4 linked regions of the Homo sapiens genome follow. The protein of the gene in region 4 interacts with the protein of the main gene of each other region in a biochemical or structural test. Each region holds a gene or a part of one and is shown on either strand. Other genes may lie near its edges. The genes, in order: TAB1, USP29, IKBKB and MAP3K7.

Region 1 (7,023 bases), on a different chromosome or scaffold from region 4:
TGTCCCCCTAGGCCTTCGATGTGGTGGAGAGGAGCTTCCTGGAGTCCATTGACGACGCCTTGGCTGAGAAGGCAAGCCTCCAGTCGCAATTGCCAGAGGTAATTTCCCCAGCCGACACCCAGGGGAGTCAAGTCCAGGCCCAGCTTTGCAAGGAGCATGGACTCATCTACTTTCTTGACATTACTGGGCCAGAGCAACAGGCGTTAGGGAGCAGTTCCTGATGGGTGACACTGGTGTGTGGCCACAGGTGAGGGACCTCGCTGCTCTGCTGTGGGCAGCTGCATGCTAAAGCTCAGCAGTGTCTGGGCAGTGGTGGACATGAGGAAGGGCTTTTCCCAGTCCTTCGTCCTGAATGGGTCCCCGCCCTTGTCAACCACCTGCTCACATCGCCTACTGCCACCTGCAGCGCTTACCTCTGTGCTGTGAGTTCGGTCATCTCCAGCTTTCTGGAAGAACCTTAGCCTGGAGCTGTAGCGAAGGCTTCATCTTGGCTGTGCCATGGACCATCTGTCTGTCTGTCCCCCGGGCCCTCGGATCTTTGCTCTTAAGAGCAAAGGGAGGCCGGGCATGGTGGCTCACGCCTGTAATCCCAGCACCTTGGGAGGCCGAGGCGGGCGGATCACAAGGTCAGGAGATCAAGACCATCCTGGCTAACATGGTGAAACCCCGTCTCTACTAAAAATACAAAAAATTAGCTGGGCGTGGTGGTGGGCGCCTTGTAGTCCCAGCTACTCTCGAGGCTGAAGCAGGAGAATGGTGTGAACCTGGGAGGCGGAGCTTGTAGTGAGCCGAGATCATGCCACTGCACTGTAGCCTGGGGGACACAGCGAGACTCCATCTCAAAAAAAAAAAAAAGAGTAAAGGGAGTGGAGAGGGCTAGGAAGATGGTCCAGAGTTCTGTCCTGCCCTGACCCTCTGTTGATGGTTGTAGGGAGTCCCTCAGCACCAGCTGCCTCCTCAGTATCAGAAGATCCTTGAGAGACTCAAGACGTTAGAGAGGGAAATTTCGGGAGGGGCCATGGCCGTTGTGGCGGTCCTTCTCAACAACAAGCTCTACGTCGCCAATGTCGGTGAGCCCCCTCCTGTCCCAGGGCAGGGAGGACTGGGGAGAGGTCAGCCACAGGGGTCGGTGCATTATTTGACAATCTGCTTTCCAGACACTTCACGCACTTTAAACCCAGGGTCTCCTGAGACCGTTGGGTATGTCCCTCTCCACAGTGACGCCTCAGTCCCAACTGGAAGGGAGAAAGGACGGGATGGGAGACAGGTGTCCTGGCCTTTAGTCCCTATTCTGCTTCTTAACTCATTCTGGACGAGTCGTATCCCATTCTGGGTGGCCTTGGGGGCCGCTGCTTCTGGAAGAGGTTACCTGGCCATGAATAACCAACCAGTATCCCCATGAACAGCTGCGAGATGGGGCTAGGTGACAGGGACATTGGGGTTTGTGAGAAGACCAGACAGGTGCAGGTTTCAGTAGAAAGGACTCTGTAGAGACCCTTCTGATGATGCTGCCTTTTTTTAATACTCCAGTGGAAAATTTTCCACAATATAGAACAATAGAGTGACTGATATTTAATGAACATTCATGCGCCCATCCCCAATCCCAGCAGTTATCAACTGTGGCCAGCCTTCTTTGTCCCCACGTTCTCTATTTTGAAGCAAATGCCAGACACTGTATCATGTTATCTGTAAATATTTCAGTCTGTATCTCTAGAGAAGAGGTCTGTTTTATTAAGATCATAATCCTATGATTACACTGAAAAAGTTAAACCCAATTCTTTCGTATCACCAGCTGTCCCTAACTGGTGACTCACCCCGTTGGTCTGAGCCTGTTTTGCCCATTTCAGGTATTTCCATGTGTGAAATGCCTGCCTTTTCCCTCTCTGCCTTCCCGGTATGCCCTATTTCTCTCTGTGTGTAGTCTTTGCTTAGCTGTTCACATTCTGCCACAGGTACAAACCGTGCACTTTTATGCAAATCGACAGTGGATGGGTTGCAGGTGACACAGCTGAACGTGGACCACACCACAGAGAACGAGGATGAGCTCTTCCGTCTTTCGCAGCTGGGTGAGTGGGGAGAGTGGGAGCGGAAGCTGATCCCCATGGGCTCACCCTTCGCCTGCCTTTGGTGGTGGGGTAGAGAGGCGTGTGGTAGAGGGGCTGTGATCTTGGGCTCCCCAGCCAGCCTGCCTGGGGTTCATTCCCAGCACTGCCGCTTACTGGTTGGTGATTGGAACTTAAGTTTTCTGTGCCTCAGATCCCCCGCTGTGTAATGAGGATAATAGTAACCTACCTCGGGATGCTAGGAGGATTCAGTTAGTGCATGTGAAATGCTTCCTGGAGTGCCTGGCACACAGAAGACACTTACTGTTATTGGTGGAGACTGAAAGAGGCCAAAGAAGTCCAGGGAGCCCAGCTGCTGCTGAGCTGCTCCTTCCCTTCCCAGTGAGCTCCAGGCAGATGTGGGGCACACGGGATGGGCAGGGAGACGGCAGGCAAGCTGCTCCGTGCCAGGTGGTGCCTGGAGGACGGGCTCTGAGTGAGGTGTGTCGTGATGGGCGTGGGGACTGAGGACACCAGGGACTTTGGGTCAGCTGCTCTCCCAGGTGCCCTGGTGTTGTCTTCATTTCCTATTCAGTGGGTCCTTATTGCCTTCTTCCCATGACTGTGTCTCTGTCCCCTTCTTTTTGTTCCTCTTTGTGAACAAGAAGCAGGATTGTTGCACTGTTTCCCTCCGTAGGCTTGGATGCTGGAAAGATCAAGCAGGTGGGGATCATCTGTGGGCAGGAGAGCACCCGGCGGATCGGGGATTACAAGGTTAAATATGGCTACACGGACATTGACCTTCTCAGGTAGGTGCCAGCCCAGCTGTCCCCTGTGCTTGAAAGAACAGAAGGTCCTAGGGAGGCCAAGATGGGAGGATTGATTGTGCTGGGAGGTCGAGGCTGCAGTGAGCCGTGATCATGCCACTGCACTCCAGCCTGGGCAACAGAGCAAGACCCTGTCTCAAAAAAAAAAAAAGGTCCAGAAGGCCTGGGGCAGACGCAGACTGTAGGCCCCAGTGACACATGTGCAGTCAAAGTAGTTCAGAGCCCAGGCAAACTCTTTCTTCCTCCCAGAGAGGTTGGTTTGGGGCAGGTTAGGCCCAGCAGGCCAGGAGTTGGGTACTGTAGAAACAAGGGGTGGAGTTGAGCTGGGCCAAAGCTGAGGGCAGCAACTAGTGCCACAAGGGAGGCAGGCGAAGCCAGAGTTGGCATGGGATGGACAGACCAGGCCTGTTGGTCGGTGCTGCCCATGGCTGCAGCAGAGGTGTGAGATGAATTGTGTATTTCCCTCTGAGGACACCTCCTCTGGACATCACCCCAGCGCTCATGGCAGCAGAATGGGCAGTCATCATCACACGGCCAAGCCCGTGCAGAGCTCTGGATGTACCTTCTTTTATGCATTCCCTACTCAGGCCCCCTGAGGCAGTCACTGCCATCACCCCAGAGGCATTTTCATAAGAGGAAACTGAGGCATGGAGACATCAGGCAGCCCACCCTGGTCATGGGGCTTGAACACAGGCAGCCTGAATTTGGAATATGTGTCCTTAACCGTCAGGTAACCTGTATGTGAAGTGTTGGTTGGGGAGATAGGCGCGTCCACTTGCCTGATGCCAATCATGGCATTTAATGTCATGGCCAAGGCTGTTCCCAAAGCCAGAGTTCCCATCAACAGAGGCCTCATGGCCTAGAAAGTGCATGTTAGAACTCCTTGCCCTCACGCGATCTAGGCAACTGAGTGTCGAATATTTGTCCCTAATTTGTGGGGTCCTGTTTCCTTTATTGGAAAGGACATCCATAGTTTAAAACACTTCAGACAGTGCTGGGGTCTATACAGGGAAAGGAAGTCTTCCTACACCACACTCTAGGACTCGCTGCCTCCCCAGAGGCTGCTAGTTTCTTGTGTATCCTGTTCCAAAATCTGGCCACATGCACATATACACACACGGTGTCTCTGTGTGTGTGTGTGTGTGTGTGTGTGTGTGTGTGTGTGTGTGTTTGTCCTGGGGGCCAAGGAGCCTGCATCCTTTTCGGAACACCCAGGTGCTGGGGTGTCTCTCTCTGTGTGTGTGTGTGTGTGTGTGTGTGTGTGTGTGTGTGTGTGTGTTTGTCCTGGGGGCCAAGGAGCCTGCATCCTTTTCGGAACACCCAGGTGCTGGTGTGTCCTGCCCCTCCCAGGTGCTGGTGTGTCCTGCCCCTCCCAGGTGCTGGTGTGTCCTGCCCCTCCCAGGTGCTGGTGTGTCCTGCTCCTCCTTCTTTTCTTTTTTTTTAAACCCTAAGGTGTAATTGGCATATGCAAAGCTGTGCCTATTTCATGCATACAACTTGATGAGTTTGGAGATATGTTTACACACCCCTCACTGCTATCATTAAAGGTGCTCATCTCTTCATTCTGCTCACCTGCAGTTAGGATGGCGTCATTCTGTGTAATAACCGCTCCCAGGGCCCAGCCCTGGCTGACGGACCCTCAGGAAGTTCTTAGACTCCGCTCTTCTGGATGGTGTTGCCAGCACCTCCTCATGTACTTACCTCCATGTGCACACACATGTGTTGGCATGTAATGACTCTGACCCCAGTCACTAAAGGATCCCTGTACACATGGAGAGTATCTGGGGTCTCAGCCATCTGTTTTGGAAAAGCCCAAATAATAGCAAGAGGCTTGGGCTCCCAGGGATAATCCCTCCCTCTTGCTGTCCCACACCCTGCCCTGCCACCACCGGACCCTGTGAACAGGACGTATGGAACAGGCCAGAATCGGGCATTCAACCTTTGCCATCCTGACCTCAGCTGCCTGCCAGTTTTTATGGCCTTCCAAGCTTTATTTTAGCAGCTGCTGTAAGACGATGGGTCTATTTTTCTGACCTTCTCTTTCTCTCTTTTCTTTTCCTCTTGTCAGGTTGTGTGTTTTATTTTACATTCTGGGCATAGATTCCTCCCCTCAGCAGAATCAGCATCCACCTGCGGGCTGTTCCAAGCAAAGCTCTTCCTTCCACTCTCTCCCCATAGCGCTGCCAAGTCCAAACCAATCATCGCAGAGCCAGAAATCCATGGGGCACAGCCGCTGGATGGGGTGACGGGCTTCTTGGTGCTGATGTCGGAGGGGTTGTACAAGGCCCTAGAGGCAGCCCATGGGCCTGGGCAGGCCAACCAGGTGAGTTGGGCCCAGCCACGCCCATGGCCGGAGAGCGTGGCTGGCCTGCATGGTGATGTGCTCACCCTGCCTTCTAGCACTGTGATTCTCGGAGGCCGTCACCAGACATCTCTGGGTTCAAAGCTGGGGGAAGGAGAATCCCAGAGCTCTGAAAACACCCATCCCACCCAAAAACTTGACTCATTTTAGGCTTGAAGCAGTGCCAGTCCTCAGGGCCTGAGCAAGGTCTGAAGGGAAGAGGGGGAGATGGATGTGAATTGCTATGGGCACGGCATTACTCTGAGACGGCCAGGAAGGGGCCAGGGCCAGGAGGAGAGCACAGAAAGAGATGTGCAGAGTCCTTCCCACACCCATCACTTCCTGCCAAGGGCCTGACGGCTTTACTGCCCTCCCTGAGTGGCAGACAATTTATAGTTTGCTTCTCATTTCTTTTTTTTTTTTTTTTTTTTTTTTTTGAGACAGCGTCTCCCTCTGTCACGCAGGCTAGAGTACAGTGGCATGATCTCGGCTCACTGCAATCTCCGCCTCCCGGGTTCAAGCAGTTCTCTGCCTCAGCCTCCCAAGTAGCTGGGATTACAGGTGTCTGCCACCACGCCCAGCTAATTTTTGTATTTTTAGTAGAGACAGGGTTTCACCAGGCTGGTCTCCAACTCCTGACCTTGTGATCCACCCACCTCAGCCTCCCAAAGTGCTGGGATTACAGGCGTGAGCCACCGCGCCCGGCAGTTCACTTCTCATTTCTACAGTGAGGATGGTAACATCTGCCTTTGTGAGATCGCAGTGAGGTTAGGCGTGGTAGACACAGGCCCTCAGCCAAGAGTTGCTTATTTTTCTTATACCTTGGAGTCACCAAAGTGTGACTTCAAGACAGTCACGTTAGGGATGGTCTCAAAGGAAAACTGTCTTTCCCTGACCTCCTTGGATTGCTGACTGGCTAAGATAAGTTCAGTTTGTGTTCCTCCTCCTTTCTGTGATTCTTGTAGGAAGATAACCTTTTCTGCTTTGACTTTTTTTTTTTTTTTTTTAAGACTTGCTGTGTCACCCAGACTGGAGTGCAGTGGCGTGATCACGGGTCACTGCACCCTCAACCTTCTGGGTTCAACCGATCCTCCAGCCTTAGCCTCCTGAGTAGCTGGAACTATAGGTGTGTGCCACCACACCTGGCTAATTTTGGTTGTTTTCTTTGTTTTGTTTTTTTGGTAGAGACAGGGTCTCACTGTATCGCCCAGGTTAATCTCAAACTCCTGGTCTCAAGTGATCCTCCTACCTTGGCCTCCCAAGATGCTGGGATTGTAGGCATGAGCCACTGTGCCCAGCCTGCTTTGTCCTTTTTAATTAAAAATCATGTATTGGCCGGGCACAGTGGCTCATGCTTGTAATCCCAGGACTTTGGGAAGCCGAGGCAGGCGGATCACTTGAGGTCAGGAGTTCGAGACCAGCCTGGCCAACATGGTGAAGCCCCGTCTCTACTAAAAATACAAAAATTAGCCGGGTGTGGTGGCAGGCACCTGTAATCCCAGCTACTCAGGAGGCTGAGGCAGGAGAATCGCTTGAACCCGGGAGGTGGAGGTTGCAGTGAGCCAAGATCGCACCACTGCACTCCAGCCTGAGCAACAGAGCAAGACTCTGTCTCAATCAATCAATCAATATCATGAGGAAAAAGTCTTCTTTAAAATTTGAAAATTAATTTTTATTTCAGTAGCTTTTGAGGTACCAGTATTTTTTTGTTATAGGGATGAATTATGTAGTGGTGAATTCTGAGATCTTAGTAAACCAGTTATTCCAGTAGTGTACATTGTAAGTAATGTATAGTGTTTTATAGTGTACATTG
Region 2 (7,824 bases), on a different chromosome or scaffold from region 4:
ATAATTAATGTGTCCTCAGTTTCCTGAGAGATCCTAACATAATATATAGAGTGTGAAGAAAAGCCCCTCCATTTCATCCTGTTGCTGCTGATAAATTATTGCCTCTTTAGGGAAACTTCACCCTCACTGGACCTTAAATTTAATGAAAGGAGGAATCACAAAAATTAGAGATCATCAGCTTTTCCCTGAGCTGAGTTCAAAAGACAGGTAGGCTTCATCATTTTCATTTTGGATGCATGCTCTTTTCTGAAAATGCCAATATCCAATGCCACAGAAAACAGAAAACTATCCCCTCAAAATAAAAACCCAGAATCAGGATTTTCGAATTTACAATTCAACCTCATAAAGGGTAGAAGATGAAATTCCCCTCATCACAATATCTGACAATATCTTTAGGGCATTAAGTTTAGACAGACCCTCCTTCCAACACTCACACACACATACACACACACACACACACACACACACACACACACACACACACATCCCATCACCCAAACAAGCAAACCTTGAATGAAACTTACAGTTTGGAGAGCTGTTCTGGGTGAGTGGATGATAATTCTTTTTTCAGAAATGAGATCTTGCTATGTTGCCCAGGGTGGTCCCAAACTCCTGGCCTCAATCGATCCTCCAGCCTCAGCCTTCCAAAGTGCCTGGATTAGACTCCATAGCGCCTGGAGGAGAATGATGGAAGTTGAGTCTGACAGTGATTATGATGTTCCGACCTTTTATTCCCAGGTGGCTCCACCCATATCACGGGTTTTTCCAGGAAATACGTTTCTTGATTAACTTATCTCTGTGTAAGAGTTTAAAATATTTGTCTAGAAAAGGCTAGATAGTGACTTATTTTACTTTATTTCAATTGGTAATTAAAAACTTTTATTTAGAAATCATTGCAAATATACATAAGAATTGCAAGATTAGTAGAAATAACTTATATTCCCTTCACCCAAATTTACCAATTGTGTATATTTTGCCACATCTGTCTGCTTTCTCTCTCCCTCTTTTGATGTTCTATGTATCTATCTATCTATCTATCTATCTATTTTTTAATAGAGACAAGGTCTTGCTATGTTGCCCAGGTCTCGAACTCCTGACCTCCAGTAATCCACCCGCCTCAGCCTCCCAAAGTGCTGGGATTACAGGCTTGAGCCACCATGCCCAGACATGTTCAAGTCCCTTATATAACAGGATATACTTTTACTCCACTTAATGTTTACCTGTTTTCTTTGTAGTAACCGTGCTTTTTGTTTTATATATATATAATTATATATATATAACATATATGTATATATATAACATATGTAAGTACATATAACATATGTAAGTATATATAACATATGTAAGTATATATAACATATAAGCATATATAACATACATATAAGCATATATAACATATATAAGTATATATAACATACATATAAGTATATATATAACATATATAAGTATACATAGCATATATAAGTATATATAGCATATATAAGTATATATAACATATATAAGTATATATAACATATAAGTATGTATAACATGTATAAGTATATATAACATATATAAGTATATAACATAAGTATATATAACATATAAGTATGTATAACATATATAAGTATATATAACATATATAAGTATATAACATAAGTAGATATAACATATATAAGTATATATAATATATAAGTACATAACATATATAAGTATATAACATATATAAGTATATATAACATATATAAGTATATATATAACATATATATCCTACATTTTCAACACGTGTAACAAATGTGGATAGTTTCAAAAAGATCATTTTACGTTCTAGTAGTTACCCTGTTTGACCAAAGTGTAGTACTTTTATTTTTCTATTGCAGTGCATTTTCTTTTTTTTTTTTGGCGGGAGGTGAGGGAGCGGAGCGGGGATGGAGTCTCACTCTGTCACCGAGGCTGGAGTTTAATGGCGTGATCTCGGCTCACTGCAGCCTCTGCTTCCTGGGTTCAAGTGATTCTCCTGCCTAAGCCTCCTGAGTAGCTGGGATTACAGGAGCCCGCCACCACGCCTGGCTAATTTTTTGTATTTTTAGTAGAGACGGGGTTTCGCTATGTTGCCCAGGCAGTCTCGAACTCCTGATCCGCCCGCCTTGGCCTCCCAAAGTTCTGGAATTACAGGAGTGAGCCACCGTGCCCGGCCTTTTTTCTGTTTTTTTTTTTTTTTTTTTTTTTTTGAGACGGAGTCTCTCGCTCTGTCGCCCAGGCTGGAGTGCAGTGGTGTGATCTCGGCTCACTGCAACCTCCACCTCTGGGGTTCAAGTGATTCTCCTGCCTCAGCCTCCCCAGTAGCTGGGATTACAGGCACCCACCATCATGGCCAGCTAATTTTTGTATTTTTAGTAGAGACAGGGTTTCACCTTGTTGGTCAGGCTGGTCTCAAACTCCTGACCTCAGGTGATCTACCCGCCTCGGCCTCCCAAAGTGCTGGCATGACAGGCGTGAGCCACCGACCCAGCCCTTTTTTCTTTTATATAGTTTTTGAGACAGGGTCTTGCTCTGTTGCCCAGGCTGGAGTGCAGTGGTGCGATCATACCTCACTACACCCTCGATCCCCAAGGCTCAAGTCATCCTCCAACCTCTGCCTCCTGACTATCTGACACTACAGGCGTGGGTAATTTTTAAATTTTTTTGAGACATAGTCTCACTTTGTTGTCCAGGCTGGAGTGCAGTGGCATGATCTCAGCTAGCTAATTTTAAAATTTTTTGTAGAGATGGGTGGGGGGAGGGTCTCACTATGTTGCCCAGGCTGGTCTCCAACTCCTGGGCACAAGCGATCCTCCCGCCTCGGCCTCCCAAAGTGCTGGGATTACAGGCATGAGCCTGGCCAGCATTTTCTGTTTGAATGTTTTTACGTAACCGGAGTCGTCATGATGGAGGTACAGTTCCTTGGACTTCCGGCTCCCATGGCTCTGGAAATCTCAGCTCGGACCCGCCCCTTCCGGCGCCGACTCCCCTGATTCTCCTGGGAACAGAAGAGTTCTGGGCACAGCACGCTGCGTCTGCGCAGTGCCGGGCGCAGGCCTCCCGACCTACGGGTCTAGGTACGGGCTCTAGCGTGGCCGGGGCACATAGAGTTCCTGGCCTAGAGCTGGTGGGGCGTAACGGCAGGAGTTAGGGTTCAGAGAAAACCAGCCCAGGGGCGGGTTCATCCTGTTACCCATTCAGCCTCAAGCGAGGTGGGGTGTGGTAGGTGGGCTGGTGCTAGAAACCACGCCGGGAATTGTTAATAACAGTCATCCCGGCCGGGCGCGGTGGCTCACGCCTGTCATCCCAGCACTTTGGGAGGCCGAGGAGGGCGGATCACCTGAGGTCAGGAGTTTGATATTAGCCTGACCAACGTGGCGAAACCCCGTCTCTACTAAAAATACAAAAATCAGCCGGGCATGGTGGTGGGCGCCTGTAATCCCAGCTACTCGGGAGGCTGAGGCAGGAGAATCGCTTGAACCCGGGAGGCGGAGGTTGCAGTGAGCGGAGATGGCGCCACTACAATCCAGCCTGGGCGACAGAGCGAGACTCCGTCTCAAAACAACAACAAAACCCCCAAAAAAGCGGTCATCCTCCAGGTGGAAGAGACAGAAGAGAGGGTGCGGAAGAGACTTAAAAGTCTTAGGCCTTCAAGCGTGTTTGCCTCAGCCACCCGTGAATCCTACAGGAAAACTAAAACAACTCGGCCACAAGCCCCCAAGTCTTGGGGAAGCGGACGGTTTCCCAGCCGAGCTTTAGGAGGAGGCGCCGCGGGACCTCACGGGTGACGTCGTCCCCGGGGGTAGTTTGCGCAGAGGGTCGCTTTGGGCGCGCTTAGAGTCGCGTGGTGCCTGGGCCAGCGAAGCCCAGGTGCAGTCATTTGTGGCCCTGTCCCGGCGCGCGAGGGGCCAAGGCTGGTCGGGGGCCGGGTCCGCGCGGTAGCAACTGCGTCCTGCCAGCTTCCATCTCTCCCTCTGAGGGCCTGAGCGGCTGCCAGAGTCAGGTCTGCAGGCCGGGCGCTCACGCGTCTGTGCCCAGTGAGGCCCCAAGATGCTGGTGAGGCCTCGACCCTGACTGGTGTCCAGGCTCTTGACACTGTCGTGAGAAGGAATTCATGGATGAGCAGAACAAAGTGTGGAGATTCATTGCGACGGGAATAAGTACGTACTGAAGAAAGAAAAGTGCAGGCATACCACAGAGCATCACGCCCAGCGGGGTTTGGAGCTACCTTTAAATATTTATTTAACCAAGGGGTGGAATATTCATGAAGATTCTTGGAAAAAGGTAAACATTTCTTGGTACTGCGGTGCCACACATTTTTATACTAAATACGGGTGTTCCCCAGAGCTGTCACAGTGGGTGTGTGACTTAGTATGTTAATGAGCACATAATGAGAGGTCCTAGGTGAAACGGGTCGAATCCAGCACCATGTTGGGTCCAGTCGGCTTTAGCCAGCTTGGCCCACACCCTGGTTTTCAGAGTCTTATCCGCCCCTAGCTTACGCAGCGATTTCAACGGTTTCCTTTGCTAGTCATGTGAAACTGTTGCCTGGAATTTTCCGTTCTCCTGTGACCACCTTTATTATTCCTGTCTCAAGGGGCACCCCATTTGTGCCTATAAGGAGACTGCATTGGGACCAGGCTCCTGGCTGCTCATGGAGCCTCAGCCAGATGGTTGTGTGCCTGAGTCCTGTGTTCATTCCACAAACATGCAGCAAGGCTGCGTGGGTTGGAGCCCTGCCTCCAGCGCTTCCCTGCTGCATGACACTGGCAAGTTGCTTAAGCTCTCTGTACCCCATTTCCTCCTCAATAAGGCAGGGATGGTGATCGTACTAGTTCCAAAGGATTATTGTGAGAATTAACATAATACATGAGTTAACACGTATAAAATGCCTAGAACCTTGTCTTTGGATTTCCTCAAACATCCAAGGTGTTTGTACACTAAAGGAAGACACCCAACTTAATTTTCGATCTACAGACCTTGCATTATCTGCAAAATACCGCTGGCTTCTTGACACTGAAGTTATACAAATGTGCCATAATTTTCTTCACAAGTTTCTGGTGTATGTTGATGTTGCTTGAATTAAAACAACCCTGTGACAAGTGGTCTCGTGGAAGTCTTTGCACATGGTCATGCTTGTTTTCTGTGGCTGAACTTGTGGGATTACCTGAATCACCTGTAGGCAAGGTTGTCCCTGCCTCAACATGGTCCCTTCTACCCTTCACAAGACTTCAGTGTGCCCCCATGTCAGCTAAGGCAGAGATTTGGGGCTACGTTACTGGGTAGGGCATAGAGCCAACCTGGATTCTCACATGTTTGTGCTTCCCAAGGACTGCTCCTCAGCCCTCTGCCCTTCCTCAGGAGATGCAGGACATGACCAAAACCCAGATGAGTTTGCATTACTTTTTTTTTTGTTTGTTTTTGAGATGGAGTTTTGCTCTTGTTGCCCAGGCTGACTTGCAATGGCGGGGATCTAGGCTCACTGCAACCTCCACCTCCTGGGTTCAATTGATTCTCCTGCCTCAGCCTCTCTAGTAGCTGGGATTACAGGTGCCCACCACCACGCCTGGCTAATTTTTGTATTTTTAGTAGAGACGGGGTTTCACTATGTTAGCCAGGCTGGCCTTGAACTCCCAACCTCAAGGTGATCTGCCCACCTCGGCCTCCAAAGTGTTGGAATTACAGGCATGAGCCACTGTGCCCGGCCAGTTTGCATTACTTTTTAACTTGCCCTTACATCATTTTCCGGTTGTGTAATACATTTAACAAGCACTTATTGTGTATTGAACACTCACTTTTCTAGGTTAGTGATTCTCACTTGGTGGCAGTTTTGCCCCCAGGGGACAATTGGCAATGTCTGGAGACAGTTTTGGTTGTCACATGGATGCTTCTGCCAGGGTAGAGGCCAAGGACACTACTCAGCATCCTACAGTGCAGTGGATGGCACGCTCCCCACCCACCCCAATCTCCTACAAAAAGAGTTATCCAGCCCAAATGTCAGTAGTGCCCAGGCTGAGAAACCTTACTCTAGGTACAGGAGATGTGGAAGTGAACCTAGCCAACAAAAATCCCTGACCTCATGGAGTTCATGTTCTCCTGGGCCACATTCTAATTTAAGTATTTACATGTATTATCTGTTTATCCATCCAGCCTTCTGTATATTTGCATAGAAAAAATACCTGGGATTGGCCAGGCGCCGTGTCTCACGCCTGTAATCCCAGCACTTTGGAGGCTGAGGTGGGCGGATCATGAGGTCAGGAGGTTGAGACCATCCTGGCTAACACGGTGAAACCCCGTCTCTATTAAAAATACAAAAAATTACCCAGGCATGGTGGCGGGCGCCTGTAGTCCCAGCTACTGGGGAGGCTGAGGCAGGAGAATCGCCTGAACCCGGGAGGCGGAGCTTGCAGTGAGCCGAGATCGTGCCACTGCACTCCAGTCTGGGTGACAGAGCGAGACTCCGTCTCAAAAGAAAAAACAAAAAACCTGGGATTTTATTATTTGCCTACTGTTAAAGATAGTAACCTCTCGGAACTAGGATCTGGAGTGATTACTTTCATCTTTGTCACTTTGGTGCAATGTGTAATTATTTTCATAAGCATGTGTGATTTTTACCAAATAAAAGTGATTTTTCTCAAAACTGAAAAACGTTGGGATGTGCATCTGCAAAACTGTTAAGGGTGTGGCACAGGTGTTGTGACACAAATGTGTGTAAAAGGTACATTAAGAGTTGGGTGCAGTGGCTTGCACCTGCAGTCCCAGATACTTAGAAGTCTGAGGTGGGAGGATGGCTTGAGCCCAGAAGTTCAAGTCCGGCCTGAGAAACATAGTGAGACCCCATGTCTTGAAAAGAAAAGAAAAAGGTACAATAGAGCATCAAAGGCACAAAGAATGGAGTGTCTCTCCTGCCCAGGTATTTTCACTCAATCAAATTCTTTTTTTTTTTTTTTCGTGAGACAGAGTCTCACTCTGTCACCCAGGCTGGAGTACATTGGTGGGATCTGGGCTCACTGCAACCCCGCCTCCCTGGTTCAGGCAATTCTCCTGCCTCAGCCTCCCAAGTAGTTGGGATTACAGGTGTGCACCACCACACCCATCTAACTTTTGTATTTTTAGTAGAGATGGGGTTTCACGATGTTGGCCAGGCTGGTCTCAAACTCCTGACCTCAGGTGATTCACCTGCGTCAGTCTCCCAAAGTGCTGGGATTACAGGTGTGAGCCACTGCGCCCAGTCTCAATCAAATTCTTAATGGAATTATTTTTGGTAATTTGGAAAAATATTTGAAATTTTAACTTAGATAAATAAAGGGGCTAAAAGAAAGCCAGAGGAGGAAAAATTAGAGAAATTACCCAACAGAAATGAGTGGGATGATCCAAAGAACAGTAGGCTGGCCACCGTGTCTTCTAAAGCCAAAGGCACGAAAGACCGTGAACCCATTTTTAAGACTGCCAATTTATCTCTAGTGGGAAATCTGGGAGTATCTGTTAAAGTTTCAGATCCACACTGGTCCAGAAAATCTACCTCTAATGTTCTTTTGAAAAAGAACATTAACCGTGAGTGACTTTGACATCATAGTATACATACAAAGTGTGGTATGATAACTGCACAATGTCCCTGTGTGTATAGACCGTAGATTTAGCCAGATGTTTCTTGGTGAATATTTAGGTTGTTTCCAATCTTTTACCATTAGAAACCATTCTTCAGTAATTAATCATAATACTCAGTCCTTTTCCATCTTCACAAGTATATCCTGGGATACATTCTTAGAGGTAGACTTGCTGGATCAGTAGAGGTAGACTTAGAGGATTGCTTAGAGGTAGACA
Region 3 (7,404 bases), on a different chromosome or scaffold from region 4:
GTAATCCAAGCACTTTGGGTGGCTGAGGTGGGCAGATCACCTGAGGTCAGGAGTTTGAGACCGGCATGGCCTACATGGTGAAACCCCATTTCTACTAAAAATACAAAAATTAGCTGGCATGGTGGTGCACACCTGTAATTCCAGGTACTCAGGAGGCTGAGGCAGGAGAATCACTTGAACTCAAGAGGCGGAGGTTGCAGTGAGCCAAGATCACACCACTGCACTCCAGCCTGGGCAACAGTGCGAGACTCTGTCTCCGGAAAAAAAAAAATATTGTATATTTCAAAATAGCCAGAAGAAAGAATTTTGACTGTTTCCAACAAAAAGGATACGTGTTTCAAGTGATGAACACGCCAATTACCCCGATTTGATCATTACACATTATGTATCAAAATATCACACTGTACCCCATAAATATGTACAATTATTATGTGTCAATTAAAAATAAAAACAGGCCAGGTTCAATGACTCATGGCTGTAATCCCAGCACTTTGAGAGGCCAAGGCAGGAAGATCACTTGAGGCCAAGAGTTCTAGACGAGCCTGGACAACATTGTGAGACCACCATCACTACAAAAAATAAAAAAAAAACCTCAGCTGAGGCCAGGTCCCATGGCTCAGGCCTGTAATCCAAACATTTTGGGAGGCAAAGACGGGAAGACTGCTTGAGGATGAGAGTTTGAGACAAGCCTGGGCAACATAGCAAGACCCCATCTCTACAAAATTTAAAAAAATGTTAATTATTTGAAATATGGATTTTCATCATCATTCTAAATGAATTCTCACTTTCATGTGGATCTGCTTATTTTTTGCCGTGCAGTATCGCAAGCAATACTGGGAAGACATCATAATTAGCAAATATTTTAAATATATATATATATATATATTTTTTGAGACAGGGTCTCATTCTGTCACCCAGGCTGGAATGCAGTGACACTATCTCGGCTCACTGCAACCTCTGCCTCCTGGGTTCAAGCGATTCTCCTGCCTCAGCCTCCTGAGTAGCTGAAGTTACAGGCATGCACCACCACACCAGCTAATTTTGTATTTTTAGTAGAGATGAGGTTTCACCATGTTGGCCAGGCTGGTCTCAAACTCCTGACCTCAAGTGATCCTCCTGCCTCGGCCTCCCAAAGTGCTGGGATTACAGGTGTAAGCCACTGCACCCGACATTTAAAATAATTTTTAAAAAATGGTTTTGAAACAAGGTCTCACTCTGTCACCTAGGCTAGAGTGCAGTGGCACAATCATAGCTCACTACAGCCTCAAACTCCTGGACAAGCAATCCTCCCACATCAGCCTCCAATGTAGTGGGACTACAGGTACGCACCAAGGCTGCCTAAGGTTTTTTTTTTTTTTTTTTTTTTGAGACGGAGTCTCACTCTGTTACCCAGGCTGGAGTGCAGTAGCGCAATCTTGGCTCACTGCAACCTCCGCCTCATGGGTTCAAGCGATTCTCCTGCCTCAGCCTCCCAAGTAGCTGGGGACTACAGGCACGTGCCACCAAGCCTGGCTAATTCTTTGTATTTTTAGTAGAGATGGGGTTTCACAGTGTTAGCCAGGATGGTCTCCATCTCCTGACTGCGTGATCCGCCTGCCTCAGCCTCCCAAAGTGCTGAGATTACAGGTATAAGCCACCACGCCCAGCTGGCTGCCTAATTTTTAAACCTTTTTTGTAGAGACGAGGTCTTGCTATGTTGCCCAGGCTGCTCTTGAACTACTGGCCTCAAGGAATTAAAATATTTTAAATTATTTATTTAGTCTCATCCTTTAAATTTTCCTATTTCTATATGTTTTATAACATATAATATCAGTATATATTAGTACATGATATTCTACTGTTACCATATATATATAATAGAGACTAAGAGCTTAACTTTATTTTACTATTTATTTAGGTGACATAGTCAATAAAGCATGGAGACCACTAACCTGGAGTCAGCTCAGAAGTCCTGAAGCCCTCTTCCCAGTCCCCCTATTCACTGTCCCAAGATGACCAAAGCCAAAGGTGAGCCCTTGGCCCAGCAGGATCAGAGAAAGTGGAGGCAGTGAGGAGGGGGCCTGGCTCCCCGCCCCTCCCCAAGCTGCACAGAGGGCCTACCTGATTGTGCCATCGGATGACATTTCCAAATCCCCCTGTCCCAAGGCGCTCTTTCATTTCCCAGGCCCCACATGTCTGCGTTGTCAGGGAAGGTGACCAGCTCATACTGATGTCGTGCTAACTCTATAAGCAATTTGGGATGGGGAAAAAAGGTTAGGATTAAGAAAAAAATGGAGCTCAAAGGGATGGAGAAGGCAAGAGATACCACTGCTCTTGAATGGGAGAGAAGAAAAATACAACTGGTTTTTTATTTTGTAAAGAAACCAATGTGTTTGGTTGGTCCAAACTTTGTGGCAAACTTTTGTCCCTCTCACCCTCCCCCATCCGGTTGCTGTGGCATCAGGCAAGGAAGAAAGTCACCGAGGGAGGCGATGCCCACGCCCTTGCCCTAGCGAGGGGATCCCCAGCTGACTCCACCAGGGGCGCCCGGGCCTGCCCGCCTTCTGCCCGAGGTGGCAGGGGCAGAACCTACTTCTGAGCATCGCCGAGGTCACGTGTTTCTTTACAATGTTCCCATAAATCGCAGGTTCCCCTCAAAGCCACCCACCCCCAAGAAGCCACCCCAGGGAGAGCTGTTTCTCCCGGCTTCCCGAACTCCAACCCGCACAAGTGAAACGCTCCCCAGTCCGCAAGCTGCGACTTCCCAGCGGCACAGAGGGGTCTTCCGGGCCTTGCAGGCAGCGGGGCGGCGGGGCCTGCAGGTGGCACCCGGGCCGCACCCACGAGGGGGACTCACCTGTCGGCAGGGACGCGGGGCAGGGGGCGGGCTCCCCGGGGCGGGGAAGGCGGGGCTGGGGCGGCCAAACCCGGGGCTATGACACCCCCCTGAAAACATTAAAATGCGGGAATCTTAACGCGGGCAGCGCGGCGCGACTTCCTCAAACACTTCCTGCTCTGACGTCACGGAGCACGTTGGCCGCGGCCGCTCTTAAAGAGGCCGCTCCCGGCGCGAGGCAGACCAGGTCCGGATGCTGCGAGTGCTGCGCCTGTCCCGGGACCCTCGACCGGGCGACTCCCCCGGGGCGGGGGTGGCGTGTGGTCTCTAGACAACTGAGGGAAAGTAGACAGACCGTGCTCACCGATTTAAAAGAACAGCCCTGAAATGACCCCCGTTACACCCTGTTCTCTTTAGACAAGTTACTTCCACCTGGAGCGGTTTCTGGGCCCGGGTATGGGGATTTCTTCACCCGGCCCCCTAGGCTTTCACCTCGGTGGAATTTCCCGCGCCCCCGCTGGGATGATTTAGGGACTGTTGGCTAGAACTGCCCTTGCCTACCGCCCTACTGCGGGCGCTCCCCTGTCTGGGGGGTGCTTGGCTGGGTGTGGAGAAGGATCAATCACAGCTGACTCCTCAGAGGTGACAGCCCCTGCCCCCTTAAAAACAAGAAAAGACCTAGCAGTGTGAAGCCAAACTGCACCCCCAGCCCCGGTGACATGAGGAAACCGTGAGGCGCTCAGCCTGAGGTTCATCGTTCATCTCCTTCCTGCTTGGAATCAGAATGTCCTCACTGCTGAGTTTCTCCGTTTTATGGGATTACATTAGTGGACAAAGGAGGTGTGTGTGTGTGTTGCTATATTTTATTCAAGCAGAAAAAAACTACCAAAGGAACCTGAAGATGATAATAATAGCTCACATCTATAGAGTGCTTACACAGTGCAGGGCTCTGTTCTAAATCTCTGTACTTAGATTTCCTTATTCAATCCTCAGGGCAACCCTGTAAATTGGAAAATACTGCATCATCATCATCATTATTATTATTATCTCGCTCTGTCACCCAGGCTGGAGTGCAGTGGTGTGATCACAGCTCAGTGCAACCTCCAACTCCTGGGCTCAAGTGATTCTCCTGACTACAGGTGCGCGGCCGCCATACCTGGTGGCGGGGTCTCACTCACTGTGTTGCCCAGGCTGGTCTCCAACTCCTGGGCTCAAGGGATCCACCCGCCTGGGCTTCCCAAAGTGTTGAGATTACAGGCTGTGAGCCACTGCACCTGGTCTGCATTATTATTATTTCCAAGGTACATGGCTGCTACGTAGATGAGCTGATACTCAAACCCTAGCAACTGGTTCCCGGGTTCTTAATCCGTGGCTAAAAGTAGCATGTTAAGAAGTTCAGAAGGAGGCAAACTGGATTTTGAATCCAGATACTGCTGTTGACTACCTCTGAGGCACGGGGGCTGGTTACTTAAACACTGTGAGAACCTATTTCCTCTTTTAAAATTTAGGCAATATTAGGTTGAATTGCATTTAATTGTCATTTTTTGGAAATTGAAAACAGCCAAAACATCAGTAACAAAGATCAGCAGTTTCATCTGCTTCATTGTAATAGCAGGGGGACAGGCGGGCTCATAGAAAGTCATAGAAAGGAGGCCACCCCAGAGTTGTTGTGAGGGACAAATGAGGTATTGATAGCAGCAGTGCCTGACAGCCCTGGGGTTGAAGTTAACTCAGGGACAGATCTCAACCCAAACATAGGGGTCAATGGTGTCCAGGGCTGTGCTAGGCACGCTGGCTGCTCGGTTTCTCCCCTCTCCCCTCTTCCCTCTCCTTTCTCTTTTTCTTTCTCTCTCTCTCTCTTTTCCTTCCTTCCTTCCCCCTCCCCTCTCCTCCCCTCCCCTCCACTCCCCTCCCCTTCCCTTCCCTTCCCGGCTACTTGGTTTCTTTCTTTTCCTTCTTTTCCTTCCTTCCTATCTCTCCTCCTTCCTTCCTTCTTTCCTTCTTTCCTTTCCTTTTCCTCCCCTCCCCTCCCCTCCCCTCCCCTCCCCTCGCTTCCCCTCCCCTTCCCTTCCCAGCTGCTAGCTTTCTTTTTTTTCTTTCCTTTCTTTCTTCCTTTCCTTTCCTTTCTTCCTTTCCTTTCCTTTTCTTTCCTTTTCTTTCTTTTTTCTTTCTTGACAGGGCCTTTCTCTATCGCCCACTTTGGAGTATAGTGGCAGGATCACGGCTCACTGCAGTCTTGACCTCCTGGGTTCAAGGGGTCCTCCCGCCTCAGCCTCCCCACTAGCTGAGATTACAGGCACGTGCCACCATGACCAGCTAATTTTTAAATTTTATTTTGTTGACATGGGGGTCTCACTATGTTGCTCAGACTTGGCTTGAACTCCTGGCCTCAAAGCAATCCTCCCGCCTTGGCCTCCCTAAGTGCTGGGATTACAGGTGTGAGCCACCGCTTCTGGCCTGGTATTTCTTGATTACTCCCAGCTAAATGGCAAGCTCAGCCTCAAGGCCAGAAGCAACAGGAACATGAGTAAATAGTTGTAACACACGTAGAATAGTGACTGCATTGTCTAAGTGCAATATAAGTGTTTGCTTAATAAGTAAATTTTTTAAATAAAATATTTATTGGCCAGGTGAGGTGGCTCATGCCTGTAATCCCAGCACTTTGGGAGGCCAAGGTAGGCAGATCACTTGAGGTCAGGAATTTGAGACCAGCCTGGCCAACATGGTGAAACCACGTCTCTACGAAAAATACAAAAATTAGCTGGGCGTGGTGGCAGGTGCCTATAATCCCAGCTACTTGGGAGGCTGAGGCAGGAGAATCACTTGAACCCAGGAGCTGGAGGTTGCAGTGAGTGGAGATCGCACCAGTGCACTACAACGTGGGCGACAGAGCGAGACTCCATCTCAAAAAAAAAAATTTGGCCGGGTGTGGTGGCTCACCCCTGTAATCTCAGCACTTTGGAAGGCCGAGGCAGGCAGATCACTTGAGGTCAGGAGTTCAAGACTAGCCTGGCCAACATAGTGAAACCCCGTCTCTACTAAAAATACAAAAATTAGGCCAGGCACAGTGGCTTACACCTGTAATGCCAGCACTTTGGGAGGCCAAGGCGGGCAGATCACGAGGTCAGGAGATCAAGACCATCCTGGCCAATATGGTGAAACGCCATCTCTACTAAAAATACAAAAAAATTAGCTGGGCGTGGTGGCACGTGCCTGTAATCCAAGCTACTCGGGAGGCTGAGGCAGGAGAATCGCTTGAACCCAGGAGGCAGAGGTTGCAGTGAGCCGAGATCGTGCCATTGCACTCCAGCCTGGGCGACAAGAGCAAAACTCCATCTAAAAAAAAAAAAAAAAAAAAAAATTATTGAGCACCTATATGTGCTGGGCACTGTGGAGAGTCCATTTCCAGTACAATGTCATAAAAGGTTTCTCTTTAATCCTGTCATCTCTGAAAAACACTGTCCTGAGAAACTTACCAAGATGTCCGCTAATATGCCAAAAGTTTACTCTGCGCTCCTGTAATTTGAATCCTCATTTTGCTCAGCTCAAAATAACTTGGCTTTCAACTGAACATAAATCTCTCTGATAAGGTCACGTATTACTAGGCTTTTTTTTTCTTCAATTAATCATGGACCAGGAAGGGGCCTCTGGGTTTTATCATATTCCAAGATATTTATTATCTTAAGCTCAATTTTCTATCCAGATAAGACATGTTTAGCTATCTCTGCCTGCATCTGGTTTCTGTCCTGCTCTGGAGATATGAGCAGACTGTTTACAAAAGATATTTTCAGATTCAGCAGAAAAATGTCCCCTTTTCTTCCTGCTTTGAGGCTGAGTGTGCTTTTTAGCTGTGCTATAGGGAAATCAAGAAATACTGACCAGCCAGAGTGCCTAGCTCAGCCCAGGGCATTACTGACCCAGGGGATCCAAGCAATGGAATGAGATCTCATCAGAGGCACTTAGAATCTTACTGGGTTTTTAAGACCCACAGGGAGCCATGAAGTAAGGACAGACAAAGGCCAGGCAATATAAAATCACACACGGATTTGTTCTGCAGTAATTAGTACCACAGTACAGTACCGTTATAGGAAAGGGGTCCCGATCCAGACCCCAAGAGAGGGTTCTTGGATCTCGCGCAAGAAAGAATTCAGGGCGAGTCAGTAAAGTGAAAGCAAGTTTATTAAGAAAGTAGGGGCCAGGCATGGTGGCTCACTCCTGTAATCCCAGCACTTTGGGAGGCAGGTGGATCACGAGGTCAGGAGATGGAGACCATCCTGGCTAACACGGTGAAACCCCGTCTCTACTAAAAATACAAAAAATTAGCCAGGCATGGTGGCGGGCGCCTGTAGTCCCAGCTACTCAGGAGGCTGAGGCAGGAGAATGGTGTGAACCCAGGAGGTGGATGGATCTTGCAGTGAGCCAAGATCGCGCCAGTGTACTCCAACCTGGGCGACAGAGCGAGACTCCACCTCAAAAAAAAAAAAAACAAAAAAAAAACAAACAAAAAAAGAAGGTAAAGGAATAACAGAACGGCTACTCCTTAGACAGAGCAGCCCCCGAGGGCTACTGGTTGCCCATTTTTATGTTTA
Region 4 (7,023 bases):
TCTTGTTTCAGCTCTCATGCTGTAAGCAGGTGTCCTTTTTTGTGCTGTTCAGAGCCCTTTTTCATTTTTGTGATTTTTGTTGGTAATTTTGCTACTTAAAATGGCCCTCAAGCATAGTACTGCCTAAGTACAAGAAGGCTATGATGTATCTTAACAGACAATATACATATGTTAAATTATCTTCATTCAGGCATGAGTTACAGAAATGTTGACTATGAGTTCAATGGTAATAAATCAACAGTATATATGAATAAGGTGTCTTTAAGCAGAAATACGCATGAAACAAGGCTATATATTGATCAGTTGACAAAAACATGGTGACCAGAGGCACACAGGAACCTACCCCTGTATTTTCCTTAGGAGCAGTGATTCAGTGTTCACTAATTCAGTGTTCTCAGAAACTTTATAGAACATAAATACCAGGAATAATGAGAATTAACTGTGCTTTTGTATTGGTTTCCTAGCAATTAAAAATTGAGAGCCCTAAAGTTTAAATGAGGATGCCTTAAAAAGAATGCAAATAGCTGGGCGCGGTGGCTCAGGCCTGTAATCTCAGCACTTTGGGAGGCTGAGGTGGGCGGATCATGAGGTCAGGAGATCGAGACCATCCTGTATAACACGGTGAAACCCCATCTCTACTAAAACTACAAAAAATTCGCCGGGCGTGGTGGCGGGCGCCCGTAGTCCCAGCTACTCGGGAGGCTGAGGCAGGAGAATGGTGTGAACCCGGGAGGCGGAGCATGCAGTGAGCCGAGATCGTGCCACTGCACTCCAGCCTGGGTGACAGAGCAAGACTCCATCTCAAAAAAAAAAAAGAATGCAAGTAATTGGACAGAAATAAGATACTAAGAATTACAAATAAATGTCAAGCTTATATGTTTACCTTCTTTTATACCTCCATATGTCACTGAAGTTTTAAAAGAGTTGTCTGTAAATTATATGCTAGGTTTCTGTATAAAAACATCAAATTATCTTTTAAATGAAAGAAGTTGAACTGAAGGTATGTGATTTGTATGTTAGGAAGTGTAAATGCCCATAAAATTCAGATACATTCAGTTAATCAGACTCTGGTTATAGCTTATTTCTTTCAGTTTTGATGACTTTAAAGGGTTTTCTGTTTGTTTTTAGCCACCCCAGAGGAAGAGAAATTGCAATGCAACTAGTCACCTGAGTGGAGCTCTTTTGCCCTAAAATTCAATTTAGTAATAAATGAATAATCAGGTGTTATATTACACAAGATTAAATAATGCCTCCTGTTTCATATACAGAATGTATACATTTGACATTGTTTTAAAATTATTTACTTATTTAATATACCTTTATGTGAGTTAAAATGACCCAATGTTACTGTATGTGGAGAGCAAAAAGATTTGTTTATACAAAAGATTAATTTTATTGCTCTAGACAACCCTTAATTGTCTAGAGCAACAAAATGCAGACTGTTAGGCTGTGTAAGTTTCTTCATTTCTGAAAGATGTCAGTCAACCTGTAGCCCAAATTAGACTGTAGCATGGTTGTAGTGCTATATTACAGTGTACTGCTTAGCATGTAAAGCTATAGCTATAATAATTGTTCATTCTTACAGTGAGTTGAGTGTTTGTTTGTTTTTGGGAGATTATGACGGGTGCTTATTGTGCTGGCTGATTCAACCACCTACTTAGTTTGTAAATTTTGCTGTGTAACTCAGGTTATCCATAATTTTCGTTACTTACAACGTAATGTTTAAGTTTATAAATTAAGAATTTCCCTTCACCATATATTGAGGAAAAAACTGTAACACTAAATTAGAAAGTTCTTCTGCTTTGATAGCAGAGTAGTGCTGTCTGTCAGAGTGGGAAGAAAATTTAAGATTAAAATGTAACAGAAAGGAGGCCAGGCACAATGGCTCATGCCTGTGATCCCAGCGCCTCGGGAGGCCAGAGCAGGAGGATCAGTTGAGCCCAGGAGTTTGAGACCAGCCTGGGCAACATGGCAAGACCCCATCTCTACAAAAAATTTAAAAAATTAACCAGTTGTGCCAGCGCATGCCTGTAGCCCCAGCTACTCAGGAGGATCACTTGAGCCCAAGAGTTTGAGGCTACACTGAGCTCCAGCCTGGATGAGAGTGTGAGATCCTGTCTCAGAATAAAATAATAATAAACAACATAAAGGAATGTACAGATGTTTCATACTCTGCCCCAGAGAAAGTATCAGTCTAAATACATAAAAGTCAAGTCCTGTGCCTCTTGATGAAAAAACTGCCTCTTGATGAAAAAAGATAGAAAATAACTGAGTTTCTGAAGTAGTTTTTTAGTGTATTGTTGATACTTAATTCATTTAAAAATGTACTTGTTGAAAAGACAAAGTACTTCAGAAAGAGTAGTTTCTTAGTTCTACATGTGACAGCCTCATTTTTATCCCTGATACCCATTCTCAAAATTTAAGCCATTGTTTCTGTAAGTCATGTGGAAAAATAGTCTTTAGGTTATATACTACCTTTTTTTTTTCTAGGTAGTAATTACAGTGAAAAATGTGACGTCTTCAGCTGGGGTATTATTCTTTGGGAAGTGATAACGCGTCGGAAACCCTTTGATGAGATTGGTGGCCCAGCTTTCCGAATCATGTGGGCTGTTCATAATGGTTCGTAAAAAGAAATTTTTCTTAAAAGTACTTTTTGTGTTTTCTACTTGGAAGACTACTCCTGTCCCCTTCCCTAAAGAATATCATTTATCTCTAACATTAAAATGTACAATTCTTTGTTAAGAGACTGCTTTGCTATTATCAGACTCTGCCCTGTCCCTGCCCCAGAGTCCAGCAGAGCAGGATTGAGAGTAGTCCTGGTCTACACATGCGGCTGAGGATGTTCACTGGCTCCGCTGATTAGGGAAAGGCCATCAGTACGCAACCTAGACAGTTGGCTCTCTCTTAGGGAGAAGCATCAGGCTGGATCATGGAAAAAATAAAAAAATACATACATAAAATCTCTGACATGGTTAATATAACTGGAGAGTTATAGCCCTTTTCTCCTGAAGAAGCAAGGGCCTCATCAAGGAGAAGAAGCAAAGAATAATAATGCTTCACATATTTTTCCTGTTTATATTCTCACCCACCCTTAGAAGGTGAGTACTGTTGCCTCATTTTACAGATTAGGAAACTGAGGCCTAGAGAGGTTAAATAACTTGCTTAAGGTCACAAGATTAGTAAGTGGTAGAGCTGGGATTCAAATCCAGATGCTTCTGACTTGAATGCTCATATCTTAAGTCATATTGACTTATGGACTCAATGTCCTTGCATCTGTCCTGTTTCTTTTATAGTTCTGGTAATGTTGTTTTTAACCACATATGATGTTAGAATGCATCCTCTTCATTAGTAAAGTTACTTTACATTTGCTTGGGAAAATAGCTTTTCATGAAGGAAAATTACTTACCTTCTTAATTTTAGCGCCACTCTTAGTTATTTCATTTCTATGCCTTGTTTATAATCATGTGACTAATGGCCATTTTTTACATTATTCCACAAGTCTAAAAACAAATGTCTGCCTAATTATTTAGGTCATTCATAGATTTATCAAACAGTACCATCATCTGAGTAATCTTAGCTGTTTTTACCAGTTTCCTATACTGCCTTTAATATTACTACCATTAGTATCATTGTGGAGACTGTTCAGCATTGACCAGGACAGCTTGCTTGCTTGCTTTCTATCAGTTGTCAGTAAATAATTGAACGTCCGTGAAGTAAAGAGTAAAAGAACTAACTTGTTAATTGATAAAATTACAAAGCACTTTTATTACTCCAAATTACAGATCTTAAACTACAAGATCTATAAAATAAATACCACTTTGGAAATACGTACAAAGAGTTTGCATCATTCTTTGGGTAAATACATTCTTCCCCCCTTCCTCTCATTTTCAATTGTAGGTACTCGACCACCACTGATAAAAAATTTACCTAAGCCCATTGAGAGCCTGATGACTCGTTGTTGGTCTAAAGATCCTTCCCAGCGCCCTTCAATGGAGGAAATTGTGAAAATAATGACTCACTTGATGCGGGTATAATCCTTCTTTTGAGGGGCTTTGGATTTAGGGGAATTTAATATGTGCTGAGTTTTAATGGAATTTTAAAAGGGATGTTATTACTATATTCTGCTTTATATATTGCTATGTTTTCTAAGTGAGAATGGGCATTTATTACTCATAGTCAGAAGAGGAAACATTTCGAGAGGGAAAATCTAGTTCTTTATCACTGGAAAGATGGCTAGACTAGGTTTCTAGACTTGCTTTTTTCTTTTTGCTTACATTAGTGGACAAGTATGTTTGTCTCTGGGCCTGTTGCCTCATTTGTAATGTGGGAGAAACTGAAATAGATAGTCTCTAAAGCCATCACAGGACTTGGATATATTAATATTATGACTTCAATACATGATAAACTAAATTTTACATTTTTCTGATACCAATTTTCATCAAGCATTTAGTCATTTATGCAAGGCAATAGGTTGCATTCTCAGACACATTTATTTGAGTGACTTTTACTATTTGGCCTATTTTCAGGTTTTTATATCCCAGTAAAAAGTTAAACTTTCTTCTATTTAGAAGAACCCTTTTAAATGATTATCAAATTTTCCTAGTCTGTGAATCAAGCGCCTTTAGAATTATTTGGAATATTTTACGCCTCTGGTTTTTGGTACATTAACAAAAACTGTGAAGTGGTATCTTGGCTTTAAAAAGTTCAAATATCTATGAAAGTGCCTGAATTTTGAAACAGTTTGTTCAGTAGAAGAATCTTACAATCTCCTTAAATATAGACTAAGTAATTTCCTAAATGGTAAAACGTTGTTTATTCAATCTATTGAAAATTTCTTACGCAAAGCAGCTTGAACTAATCTACTAAAAGTTTACCATCGTATTTGGATACCAGTCATATATAGAAGCCTAGGCCTTAAAGGTGTGTGCATAAGAAAACAACTTAGTCTCTGTAGTCAGATTACTTAAAACTTTAGGATATATAAGTTATTGCAGTTGTAATTTTGCTTCTCTGTTCCTTGTCTAATTTGAGGAGAATACGTTTCCTTTTTTTCTCTAAATTCTAACATTTTTGTCCAGCAGATACTTTGAGTATTATGCCTCCAGTTTGTAGAAAGACATTCATAATCTATCCTCTTAATATTTAAAATGTTCTAACAATTATTCTATGGTATACTAGTCTCAGTCTTCAGACTAACAGTCACTGGAAGTTTACATCACTACTGTAAGAACATGAGTATGTTTTACATAATTATGAGAAATGATACTATTTTATTTCATATGTTTCTCTAGAGAAATATTTGCTGTTTTCTTCAAGACTATCTAGACTCCAATGTAAGCTAGATTCTTAGGTAGGTGCATGGCATTGATCAAAGTTGAAATCCAAGAGTACATTATTGTAATCTTTGTAAAATAAAAAACTTAGGCACCTACAAATTTAGTATATAACTTAGGGAAAATAAAACATTAATCAGGATTTAATTTGTATTAAGGAAATTTTAAGCTGTGGTTTACTTTTTTATATATAGTACTTTCCAGGAGCAGATGAGCCATTACAGTATCCTTGTCAGTATTCAGATGAAGGACAGAGCAACTCTGCCACCAGTACAGGTAAATGGATAGATTGGAAGAGTATTGACTTGATTTTTCTTTCATCTCTATTCCCATGAAATTATAATCAAGAAGTAATGAATAATGTCCCCATTTGCATTTTAATTCCTTCATTTCATATGATTGACTGCAATTTGAGTTTACAGGTGCGTCATTCTTCATGTAGGTACCCTGATTAAAGAGTTATTGAAGACCTGCTTCCAAGTCTTAGAATTCCTACATAATTATGAATAAAAAGATGGCATATTGTATTACAGTGAATGTCATTCTTAACTTGAAAAATCACTTTTACATGCATACTACTAGATCAAGTAGTATTAGAAATTATTGTAAATGTATTTAAACATTTCTTCATCACGAACACCCTAGTTTTTGTTCTCTTCTACAGAGGCTCTGATTTAAGAAGCTATGTTAAAAGTTCCTTAGTTTTCCGAAATGTGAAGTAGTAGTGGGACATGTAATTTGTGGTCATCAAAAAGATAGTAGAAATAATACTGTAACTTAGAAATATTGTACTTCTCAAAATATAGTGGCATTATAAGCATTTCATTATTAATTGAAACTTAAAGATATGTGTGTGTCTATATGCACATGTATTTACCCTGCATTTATTGAAAAATACTTTTACTGATCTATTTCTCCCACCTCAAGAATAGTTTTATTTATTTTAAGATGGTTACTGCTTGGCTAGTTATTCTCAAATTCCAGTTTTACTGAAAATATTTTGAGTTGCTCTGAATTCTAAAATGTACTTCTCTAAAATTCTATCATTTGTGTCTCCCACGTCCTCTAAACTCTCTCTTCATTTCCTTACTGTGACCTTGAATTTTTTGAGCCTCCCACCTTTTCACTGGTCCTCAGTCCTCTTAGGTCCTTTTTTCTTTCTCCCTCCACTTAATTCCAATCAACTATTATAATTCTTTTGGGAATAATTTTCATCTTTCTAGCCTCTCTCTCAAGCTTGCTTGGCTAAACCACAAGCCTAATGAAAGCTGACACTCGGCTTACTCCTTGCCTGTACCAATGCAGCTGAGTGTGGCTGGAGATAGCACAGGTTTACTATCCTCACGTGCATGTTTAGTGCTATTGGACAGTTGTACTGTATTGTAGTTCATCTCTTTCCTCCTATATGTCTTAATTTTATACTGTAGCCTCTCCTCAGACTTCAAACACCTCCTCGCCACTCCTCACTCTCAGCTGATCTTGTTTGCTCTTTCTCTGAGAAAATTGGAGTAATCGGAAGACAGCTTCCACAACATCTGTGCCCATCTACTCTGCTTTCTTCTGTTACTCTGGCTAAACTATCCATACTTCTGGCCAAAGGTGTACCTTTCTGCCTGTGCATTATATCCCATCTGCTCCTCTGAGCAATTCTCCCCTGTCTCTTGCATCATCAGTTTTAGCTTTCTACTGG

Evidence for each region.
Region 1: of the proteins of MAP3K7 (region 4) and TAB1, one has a biochemical effect on the other in vitro, tested with the Homo sapiens proteins (4 studies listed by BioGRID and IntAct).
Region 2: the proteins of MAP3K7 (region 4) and USP29 form a complex in vitro, tested with the Homo sapiens proteins (2 studies listed by BioGRID).
Region 3: of the proteins of MAP3K7 (region 4) and IKBKB, one has a biochemical effect on the other in vitro, tested with the Homo sapiens proteins (5 studies listed by BioGRID).

The regions. Positions count from the first base shown.
Region 1 is NC_000022.11:39,416,780-39,423,802, forward strand, and holds part of TAB1 (TGF-beta-activated kinase 1 and MAP3K7-binding protein 1), read left to right. Parts: intron 1-11; coding exon 12-98; intron 99-931; coding exon 932-1,070; intron 1,071-1,952; coding exon 1,953-2,066; intron 2,067-2,739; coding exon 2,740-2,851; intron 2,852-5,047; coding exon 5,048-5,192; intron 5,193-7,023. UniProt on the Homo sapiens protein: Key adapter protein that plays an essential role in JNK and NF-kappa-B activation and proinflammatory cytokines production in response to stimulation with TLRs and cytokines.
Region 2 is NC_000019.10:57,115,175-57,122,998, reverse strand, and holds the start of USP29 (ubiquitin carboxyl-terminal hydrolase 29), read right to left. Parts: upstream 3,015-7,824; 5' UTR 2,770-3,014; intron 675-2,769; 5' UTR 525-674; intron 1-524.
Region 3 is NC_000008.11:42,266,902-42,274,305, reverse strand, and holds the start of IKBKB (inhibitor of nuclear factor kappa-B kinase subunit beta), read right to left. Parts: upstream 3,005-7,404; 5' UTR 2,837-3,004; intron 2,749-2,836; exon of another isoform or gene 2,583-2,748; coding exon of another isoform or gene 2,573-2,582; intron 2,224-2,572; coding exon of another isoform or gene 2,206-2,223; coding exon 2,101-2,205; intron 1-2,100.
Region 4 is NC_000006.12:90,549,054-90,556,076, reverse strand, and holds part of MAP3K7 (mitogen-activated protein kinase kinase kinase 7), read left to right. Parts: intron 1-2,490; coding exon 2,491-2,619; intron 2,620-3,897; coding exon 3,898-4,028; intron 4,029-5,527; coding exon 5,528-5,609; intron 5,610-7,023. UniProt on the Homo sapiens protein: Serine/threonine kinase which acts as an essential component of the MAP kinase signal transduction pathway. Plays an important role in the cascades of cellular responses evoked by changes in the environment.